2 separate regions of the Homo sapiens genome follow, and region 1 is reported to be linked to region 2. Evidence: microRNA targets listed by miRTarBase, many of them from high-throughput screens and not tested one by one. Region 2 holds a microRNA gene; the other region holds the end of a gene's coding sequence.

What was found. Region 2 holds the annotated microRNA hsa-miR-4761-3p (GAGGGCAUGCGCACUUUGUCC, at 3,880-3,900, opposite strand). A microRNA usually pairs through its seed, bases 2 to 8, with sites in the 3' UTR of a target mRNA and lowers its output. Matches are read on the target gene's strand: a 7mer-m8 pairs with bases 2 to 8, a 7mer-A1 pairs with bases 2 to 7 and ends in A, and an 8mer does both.
Region 1: the mRNA of ZMAT4 is a reported target of hsa-miR-4761-3p. Seed matches in the 3' UTR shown: 7mer-m8 at 3,680-3,686.

What each region holds. Positions count from the first base shown.
Region 1 is chr8:40,527,387-40,532,759 of GRCh38, forward strand. ZMAT4 (zinc finger matrin-type 4) reads right to left here. Exons shown (of 7, transcript NM_024645.3): 7 at 3,204-4,852. The coding sequence ends at 4,837. Among named protein-coding and RNA genes, the nearest start is that of SIRLNT, 190 kb to the left of the region's middle.
Region 2 is chr22:19,962,363-19,967,713 of GRCh38, reverse strand. MIR4761 (microRNA 4761) reads right to left here and starts at 3,961; the gene lies at 3,880-3,961. COMT (catechol-O-methyltransferase) reads right to left here. Exons shown (of 6, transcript NM_000754.4): 3 at 4,899-5,187; 4 at 3,955-4,148; 5 at 3,415-3,546. The coding sequence starts at 5,187. It also overlaps a transcript of ARVCF not described here. RefSeq lists enhancers at 3,473-4,188, 4,189-4,904, 4,905-5,351.

The DNA of each region.
Region 1 (5,373 bases), not on the chromosome of region 2:
TACATCACACATTACCTCAACTCTCTGAAGTTGGAGCATCCCTACCTCTCACTGAACCTACTGACCCCCTGAAGGATGAGGGAACTTTAGCCTGGATTTCAAACAACCACCGTTAACTCAAGTTTGACACTGTACAGTAGTTTCACGGTATCCCAGAAACAATGTAAGCCGCTATGGGTGGCTGGTGGTGGGAGACAGGTAAAATTGGATTTTTTTCCCTTTGCTCATATAATCTGAAGACTATAGAATGTAGTTTTTAAAGGTCAGAACGAATTGCTAATTAAGTGGAGGCATTTGAAATTAGCAAATAAAATTGCTACTCAGAATAGTGACTAAGGAGTAATTAATCATAAGGGGAAAATGGAAGCGCAGTTCAGCCAGCAGTAAAATCATCTTTTAACTAGTTACCATAGAGCCTTCAGATGGTGTTACTAAGAAACTGTTAGATATTAATTTCATTCTTTTCTCTTTAGGCTATATCATTTAAAAAAATAGTACTCAACATTTTTCTATGAAGACACAAATCAAGTTGGTCTGCACAGTCTCTCTTGCAGGTATTTAGAAATATGTGGACTAGCTATGATTTCCCTTTACCTTTCACTCAACATTGGAATGAAGTAAGGATTACATTATCATAGTCTTCACTTTAAATCCAGTCTACTTTTTATATAACTCATTGATGAATCTTGGCATTTTAATTATTAGAACACAGAATTACTTAATATACTCCTCAAACCAATGCTGAGACTCCCTCCTTTCCTTCTTTTAAAATACTTTTTTAGTTTGTTTGTTTGTTTGTTTGTTTTGAGACAGAGTCTTGCTCTGTCACACAGGCTGAAGTACAATGGCGCAACCTCGGTTCACTGCAACCTCGGTTCACTGCAACCTCCGCATCCTGGATTCAAGCGATTCTCCTGCCTCTGCCTCTGGAGCAGCTGGGATTAAAGGCATGCACCACTACAGCCAGTTAGTTTTTGTATTTTTAGTGGAGATGGGGTTTCACCATGTTGATCATGCTAGTCTTGAACTCCTGACCTAAAGAGATCTGCCAGCCTCAGCCTCCCAAAGTACGGGGATTACAGGCGTGAGCCACTGCGCCCAGTCAAAAATGCCTTCTAAAAACATTTTGGTTTGGTTTCCAGGTGCTTTTTGTTTCCCTAGGTGCTATATCTGCCAGTCTTGGGTTAGATGCTCTCAACCCATGCTAGGATTCCATTTCACATCAAAATTTTTATATCTTAAATTTAAAGCCAAATTTACAAACATGAATATTACAATCAAATATTCAGACAGTTGATTTGACATGCACATCTTAAACTAGAAAACAAATTAAGGCAGGATTTATACAGAGATCCATATTTTTAAGCACTTGATATTTATTAATTAGCGAATCCACACCAGAATCCTATGAGGTAGCCTAGCTTGTCTTTATTATAAATAAATTAGGTAGAAGCCAGAAAAAAAAAAAAAAGGCTATCTCCACAATAATATGTTGATTGGACCCTCCTTATTCTGGTCACAAAAGAAAAACAGTTCCTCATATAAGTGGGTCAAGTGAACAATGAATATTTTGTTTGGATGGAATATAGAGAGAGTATAGTTATTTTATTACCTGGCAGTTTAAAAAGGTAATTTTCTTAGTGGGGCTTTAATATTCTGTGTTCACACTGACTTGTCAGAAATTTCCGACTCAAAATATCAGCTTTGGAAGAGTTAGAATGCCCCCACACTCCACCCCCAGCCCCAACCAGAAGGCTCAAATTTTCCTATGGGAGTTTTAGTATTTTTCATGTATCTTAAATTTTTCATCCTTTGGTCTGGTTGACCTAATAAACTCATGTCAATAAAAAAGTGTAAAGACTCTTTCAGTTCCAATTTATGCTTATATATGTCGTCTAACAGGCAAGTGAAACACAAATCCTATTTGTCTTTGTAGTCAAGCAATTGCGGATGAGAGTTTTATTACTACCTTTATCAGCCAAAGGAATCACTGTAGTCCCCTTTACTTAGCAGATTACTTTATGACTATATTTATTAGTTCACTGGGCTTGGAGACTAAATTTAATGAAGACTCATTAATTTGGGTTTCACTACCGTGGCGTTTGTGGCCTCTGGCACAGGTGCTAGCCTGAAGCTTACCTCTGTACTGACGGAGAAAAACTTTTTGCAAAGTAAATTAACTGCATGACCAAGACTATAGGAGTGTTTTATCTTCTTAAGAAGACAATTTCAACCACGTAACCACTAACCTTTTAAATACAAATAATTTTACTCTGATATAGTATAAGGAGTCCATTAAGCTTGTGTGTTATGTTAATTTTGAATAATTTTTCCCTCACTGCAGCAAAACTTTAAATGGGCAGTATTTGGTTAGTTTAGTTAACATTATTATAAAAACTCTGGAACAGTAAAAATACTTTAAATATTGATAATTTGAATAGCTTCACTCTTTCAAATATATGGGTTCTTTCCTAGGTCCTTTTAATTAACATTTTACAGAAAATCACTTGACTCATGTTCTCAGCTGGCCCGGAGTCTCTGCTGGGACCACGTGTCAGCAGCTCCGGGTGGACTGGACGTAAGACAGGGACACACCTGGGTCTGTGTGGGTCTCTTTCCTCTCCTTCAGAATTGATTTGGTTATTTGAAAACATTTACCTTCCATCCCACTCCCATCCACTCATAAAAAAATGGGAAGGTAAGATATGACTTAGCTGAACAAACACAACCACAGCAAACCAAACAGAAAAGACAACCACAAACAGCTAGCTTCCCAAGTAGGAATCTTTCCATTCCAGAATTCCCAAAATATAAACAACATTAGCAGCCCCTTCCTGCCTAAAACTAAATATGTCATCTCCAGGGTACACTAGAATGATAATTTCCACTATCTGCATGGGCAAAAATAAAGAAATTTGAAAACAAACAAACACACAAAACCTCTGGCAGGGTATTCACTTGCATTTGACAGGTTGCCAAGGAGCAATGGTATTTAGATGAGGAATTCTGAAATAATCTGATTATTATGGCCGGAAGATTATCTATAAAGGGTTTGGCATAGCCTCTCTGTAAAGTAAAAGAAATCTATGTTCATAGACTTTTCTATATTAGGTTATTTTAAATACACACACACACACACACACACACACACACACAGCACTTTAGGGCATAAGCTCACTCACTAAACCCAAACTGAAACAGTGTTTTGTTGTTGCTGCTGTTTTTACTCGGACAATGCTTATTTTACAGCGGAATTGACAAATAAAGCCTTATTTTACACATCCGAAGAAACACCATCACAGGAGGTTTGTAGGTCGGCTGTGTGCTTTCCAAAACAGCAAAATAGATTCTTCCCATCCAACCCCCTTTCCTCTTGTAGAGTAGGGTGTGGCTCGTGGGGCTTCGTCTCTCTGCAGGCACAGAAACTGGCAGACCTGGTCCCTCCTGAGCGGGCCCTGCTCAAGGGAATGGTGCCAGATTTTGAACACAGGTAAACAGGCTCCTTCATAACAACACTGTGCATTTCTGTGTCATTTTGTTTATTGCTCACTGAGTTGTTGCCACCTCAGCTCTTGGTGGAAAACAGTGGGTGTCCAGAAATTGCTGACACAAGAAGATGGATTGCCTATGGTCGTTAGGGACACAGGGCAGCCCCAGCCAGATCCCAGCTGGTCCATGCAGGGCATCGTCAGTAGAAGCTCAACGTCCCACTTCGTAACCAGGCTACAAGACACCAAGTCCGGTCACCATGGAAAAGAATTAAACCTAGAGAAAGAGCCTCATGATCTGCACTCAGACGCTCCCCATCAGAAAGGAACTGTTTTCTTTATCGGTCATGCTCTTTCCAGAGTGACTGAGTCTTGGCTCAGCAGTAGGACTTCAGTGAGAAACAGAAGAAATAGGGGACCCCGCCTAGCCCAAGGCCGCCATTTCTTCAGAATTTTCTCACTTCTTTCCAAACGATCAGTATCCCCCAATTAAAGCCCACAGTTCAGGCCAAACATCATAAAAAAAAATACTTGTTTATTTCCATCTCATTCTGGGGTTTATAATTCTTCTTTTGGATGCTTTTGGGGAAAAAAATTCACCAAGGTCAAGGGCTGTGAAGACGTTTTTGCCTAAGAAGATCATCATGCAGGCAGACTAATTCTTTTCCTAAGCTATTATTTGGCAACTTGCAAGGAGGACTTGGCTTAACCTTGAGAAACTGTTCTTTGAATGATCAGGAAAAAAGATGAGAATTCTTCCTTTATTTACTCCCTTCGTCTTCATTGTTCAGATGGTAAACCTGGCTCCTGTGCTTGGAGAACGGAGAAAACGACTGGTATTTATTTGTCCATTTGGTATTTTCCACTAATAGTGATCTGTTCCAGTTCTGTGCATGTCACCCTCAACTGTGTCCAACATGATGAGAAAAGAATGTATATTTCTGGATAGAGGTGGTTTACATCACACTCATTGAGGATTTAACAGAATAATTATGCTCTGAGGAAATCTAGAATAAATTGGAAATTTAAATTTTTCCACTTTCAGTTTGAATAATGCTCCAACTGTTTGCTATAGGATTATAATTTAGAACATGTGCTAAATATGTTATCAGGAAAGAATTTAAAAATCCATCCAAATATCATAACTTACCCCAAAATTAAAAAAAGGAAAAAGAAAAAAGAAACCTCATTCATTTCCAAAAATCAAGATCAGTCGTATGTGAATCTGTGAATCCTTATAAGAAATGTTTATTGTTCAAGAAAGAAGCCTCCTCTGGTGGTTGATAAGCAATTCTCCACGGCAGAGAAATGCTAATGTTTTGTTCTTATGTCTTGATTGATGCTTTCACTACTTATTCTTCAGGCTATAAGACAGAAGGAAACACAGTGTTACCTTCTTTCATAATTACAAATTCCAACACCTCTTTCTCCCCCCCACCCCCTGTCTCTCTTCTACTTCTCATATTACCTTAACCATCAAATTCAAATGCATCTGAATTTGTAAAGTTAATCTTTCAGGTTCTAAATAACCTGTATATATAAAATATCTCCATTACTAATGCCATCTCCACATACGTACAAGAAAATGTATAGCTCTACATTGTCAATCCAGACACTAAATTCATTCCAAATGTTTTTAAATAAAAATAATGAATTGATTTTTATTTATGGCATGCTGCATACACCCATCTTTAAGTTTCAGGTATAACTACATGCAGAACCCTCTTGTTGAAAGTGGAGAGCAACATTACAGTGGCTAAATTTCAAATTAATATAAGCCTCGTTGTCCACTCATTCAGAATTTTCTCTGTTAGAAGAATAGAAAAAAAAAATTGTTTCTGGGCCAGGTGCAGTGGCTCATGCCTGTAATCCCAACACTTTGGGA
Region 2 (5,351 bases):
CAAAAGTTAACAAGCAATCTCAAACATCTAAAGTATAATAAAATCAATTTGCAGGCAGGTGCCTTGAAACACTGGTATCCGACCCCACATGCCTCTGGGATGGGCCTGGAGAGTCCCACAGGGCTTGCAGCTGTCCTGGTGGTGGGTGGCGGTCGTTTCCAGCCTGTATGCTGCAGAGAAAGCAGGGGGCTTTCATGTGACAGTATGGACACCACACGGCTGCAAGGTCAGTGAGGTCAGGGGACAGCCCCAAGGTCCGGAGTTGAGCAGGAAGTACCACCATGAATCATGATGTGTTTTCATTTAGAAAAAAAAAAAAATGTCCTAGCAATGTCAGCTGAAAAGACGTAGAACAAAGCGCCACCCGGGAGGAGGACAATGGCCTAGGCCTTGAGCAGGGCGGCTGCCTTCCAGTCTGGGCCAGGGAATGCATGAGTGAGGGGCCTGGGCTCCTGGACTTCTCGGGTTGCGCCAGGGGACTCAGGAGCCCAATCTGGTCATCAGGGATACAGAAGACGTCAGCGGACTGAAAGACACCAGACCACTGCACCTGCACGAGTTAAACAGGAAAGAAGGAGGGAAGGGCAGAAAGGAGCATGGGTCACCTTTGGAGGCTGCCAGGGGCCCACTCCTTTACGAAACTGGTCAAGAGGGGAAAGAAGGCAGCACCTGTCCTGCCTGTCGCCCGACACTGCAAGCCTCCTACCAGCTACTCAGACCACCTGGAGAACTGGCTAAACATGCATCAGCGTCTGAGCAGGACTGAAAATCTAATGCCGTGGAGAAGCGACAGTGTCAGAGGAGCAGGTGACACTATGCTGAGGTGGTTTTCATCTGGCCCACCCTCCTTAGACTCTCCTCCCTTCAAGAGTTGGAGCCTCACAGAGGTTGCAGGGAGCCAAGATCGCGCCACTGCACTCCAGCCTGGGCGACAGAGCGAGAGACTGTCTCGAGAAACAACAACAAAAAGTTGGAGCCTCAGACCAAGCACACACCTGTACTCCCAGCACTTTGGGAGGTTGAGGCAAGAGGATCGCTTGAGGCCAGGAGTTTGAGACCAGTCTGGGCAACATAGGGAGACCCCATTTCTACAAAAAATTTTTAAATTAGCCAGGTGTAGTGGTGCATGCCTTTAGTCCTAGCTACTCAGGAGGCTGAGGTGGGAGGATCACTGGAGCTCAGGAGTTTGAGGCTACAGTGAGCTATGATGTCATCACTGCACTCCAGCCTGGGCACAGAGCAAGACTCTGTCTTTTTCTTTTTTTTTTTTTTTTTTTAAGGGGGAACTCATTCCTCTTCCTTTGGGCATGGGCTGGACTTGGTGACTACAGCAGCCCGGTGGAGAGGCCTCCTCAAAGCAGCCCTTGATTTTGAATTGCAACCTGCTCCTGAGCCCCTCACCCCTCGTGCCTCCGATGCTCACAGAACCCACTGAGGGGATGGCTAGACCCTCACAAGAGCCAGGTTGTCCCCTAACCCTCCACAAGGGGGCACAGGGCCCCAGCCCTGAGTGTGCAGATGTGCGTTTAACAAGGACACCCATTCCCAATTCATGACTTCCCACTTCATGACTTTGCTTCTTTTGAGATAATTACCAGCTTTGCGCAAGCAGCACTGAGAAAACTATTAGTTTCCTAGTTACTAAACTGCAATGTTTGCTACTTTTCTATGAAGGCAGGCCCCTGTAATTAGCACCCACATCACAGCTGCTGAAACTCGGCCGCAGTAACGCAGGCCCAGCTGTGGGTGTCTTTCCTGCCCAAGTGAAGCCCATCTGGCTGAGTGCCAGCTCTCTGCCATCAATACCCAATTGCCAGCATCATGCTCCTTTGTCAGGGGTGAGCCCCCCTCCAGCTACCCTGTCTTGGCCTGTAGGTCTCCCTCCCACCCTCCCAATGCCCACCCCCTTGGCCACTACAGGTCCTCCCTCTCCACGGCCAGGGTTCAGTGCCTCCTCGTGAGTTCAGGGCATCTGAAATGCCCTCCCCACAGCCCTCTCCACACTCCACAAGGCTGACAGGGATCTTTCCAGAAAAGTTTTTGTTGTTTTTTGTTGTTTTGAAAGCTGGAATACGGCCGGACGCAGTGGCTCACGCCTGTAATCCCAGCACTTTGGGAGGCCGAGGCGGGCGGATCACGAAGTCAGGATATTGAGACCATCCTGGCCAATGTGGTGAAACCCCATCTCTACTAAACTACAAAAAACTAGCCGGGTGTGGCAGCGCGCGCCTGTAGTCCCAGCTACTCAGGAGGCTAAGGCAGGGTAATCGCTTGAACCCAAGAGGTGGAGGTTGCAGTGAGCCGTGATCGTGCCACTGCACTCCAGCCTGGTGACAGAGCAAGACTCCATCTAAAATATATATATATATTTTTTCTTTTGCCATGTTGCCCAGGCTGGTCTCGAACTCTCCTGGCCTCAAGCGCTCCTCCTGCCGTAGCCTCCCAAAGTGCAAGGGTTACAGGCATGAGCCCCTGAGCCCAGCTCCAGAAGACAGGTCTAACCTCATCCTCACCTGCCCAAAGTCCTGTGTGCCCTGACTCCCATTGTTCCTGGAACATTCTCTGCCCTTTCACACCTCAGGCTTCTGCTAGTGCTGGTTCCTTCCAATCCGTGTCCAGGGTCCAGCGGCCCTACCTAGCCAGGCATGGGGGCTGTGCCCCTCGTGCTCCTAGTCCGGCTGCTAACAGCAGTGTCCAGTTTCTGGGAGAGCTGCAGGTGAGCGAGCACCAGGTGGGGAGGCCGTGAGGGTGGGTGTCCCAAGCCCAGTGGAGGATCACAGAGCCACTCAGTGTCGCTGACCACCAGGGAGGGATGGGGCAGTGTGTCACTGATGTGAGGCTCCTTAAGCATCAGTCTGTGAAGGGCCACCAGTGCCCCACGCCCCCCAGGGAAGCGAGGACAGCCCCACCCGCTGTCTAGCCTCACTCGGGGCACTCAGGGTCCTCGCCAGTGGGGCTGGGTTGGGGGAATGCACAAGATGGGGCCTCAGGAGGAAGATCTGCAGGAGACACATGCTTTCTTTGCACGAGCAGTGGCTTGCTTGGGGGAGAGCAGGCTGGGCCCAGAGCGGCCCTTCCCCACCCCATCTCCTTGGTCCTGTGCCGTTTCTGCCCTGGTGTCTGGTCTGGGGTGTGCACCCCACTTCTGCCACCCATTTTGCACCTGCACAGGCAGCTGGCTCCCCAGTTCCCAACAGGCCACCCAGCCAGGCCCCTGGCCCAGCTCCCCACCCATCTCCACCCACCACAGGGCCTCCTCAGTCCCCCACACTCCCAGACCTCAGGTGGTGCCTCCAGAGCGAGCTGTGTCCACACAGGGCTCTACTGGAATGCCTGGCTCTTTGGAGAGGCTGAGGCTGACTGAATGGGCTCTGGGCAGCAGCTGGCACGGATGCCATCCTGGTTGGGGCTCACCTCCAAGAGAAGCGTGTCCGGCAGGTACCGGTCCTTCCAGTGGTCGAGGAAGACCATGTCCAGTGTGTCCACATCATACTTCTTCTTCAGCTGGGGGATGATGTCCTGGGACGCTCCAACCACAAGGGTGACCTGGAACAGCGCCTGTCAGTGCCCACGTCCTCACAGACAGGAGGCCATCCCTACACACCTATACAACAGCGCCTGTCAGTGCCCACGCCCACACAGACAGGAGGCCATCTTTACACACCCATACAAGCATTCATCAGTTTTCTTTAGGGTTCTGGGATGACAAGGCCCCACTCTGTCCCTGCCCCTCCTGGTGCCACCTTGGCAGTTTACCCAGAGCTGTGAGACCCTCACTGAGCTGCTGGGGGGGTCTTTCCTCAGCCCCAGGCTGGGAAGCACTGAGGGGCCTGGTGATAGTGGGTTTTCAGTGAACGTGGTGTGAACACCTGGTGGGGAGGACAAAGTGCGCATGCCCTCCCTGCCCACAGCCGGCCCTTTTTCCAGGTCTGACAACGGGTCAGGCATGCACACCTTGTCCTTCACGCCAGCGAAATCCACCATCCGCTGGGTGATGGCGGCACAGTCGGGGTTGATCTCGATGGTGATGAGCCTCGCCCCTGGTGACAGCAGGCGGGCCATGCGCACAGCTGAGTAGCCACAGTAGGCCCCCAGCTCCAGCAGCACGGAGGGCTGGTGCTCCTGAATCACGGCGTCCACGATCTTGCCTGTGCAGGGTTGGGGACGGAGGAGAGGTGAGCACAGGTGGAGAGAGGGGAACTTGGATCCCCAGGCACGGCCCCCCACCTCTCCCAAAGAGCAGGAGCCCCTCCCAAATGCCTGGCCGCTGGCCCTCCTCTGCCCACCCTCCCTACCCGCTGGAGGGGTATTTCACCTCCCTGGTGTCCCCAGCCCCCAGGACCTGGTCCCCACTGTGAGCGCGCTTGGAGCTCCCATGGTCCCTTAGCCTCTATGCTCACGCTGGTCCCTATCTTTTCCACCCTTCCTGGCTGGCCCCAGTGTGTCCTAACACAGAGCTGCCCTCTCTGAATCACCGAACCGCCCACCTTGGGGCCCTGGGGCGGCACTAGTTCCCTGAGTCACTCCGTGAGCCCGGTAACACATCCTGTGCCCCAGGCTGAAGTTCAAGCGGGAGGCGGGCCCAGGAGAACCTGTCTGACTGGTCCCCAGGCAGGTCCCATGGTGGCCAGAACAGAGTTCAAGGGGAACTGCACCACCGTCAGACCCTGTGAGTGTGGGGGCCTGTTGTCCTGGGGCAGCAGGCAGCAGGGCCTGCAGGGGTCATCAGGGACCCTGGCACCCTGGGACTCCAGAGGAGCCCCCCAGCCCTATCTGGGCATATCCCAGGGTTCCCAGCCCCCTGGAAATGGGGTGATAACAGCTTCTCCTGTAAGGGCTTTGATGCCTGGTCCTGGGTCCCTGTCCCAGAGCTGAGCACCTGCTGGCCCGGACCCCACCTTTCTTGTCGCCCACGTTCATGGCCCACTCCTTCTGCTCGCAGTAGGTGTCAATGGCCTCCAGCACGCTCTGTGCGTTCCCGGGCTCCGCATGCTGCAGCACGTGGTTCAGGATGCGCTGCTCCTTGGTGTCACCCATGAGCAGGTTGTGGATGGGCTGCAGGATGAACTCGTTCCAGCCGATAAGGCACAGGCCCCAGCCCCAGTGCCTCAGAAGCAGCAGCAGCACCACCAGCAGCACCAGGCCCAGCAACACAGCTGCCAACAGCAGAGGCGGGGCCTCCGGCATCTGCAGGGCGGGAGGGGAGGGGCGCCAGTGCTCTGTGCTCCTCCTGCAGCACCCACACGCCCCTTTGCTTGGAGTGCCACCATCGCCCCCTTGTGTTTGCAGAGGGGCAAGGTTCAGAAATGCCAGCCTTGTGCCTCAGTTGCCTGACGTGTCAGCGCCAGGGA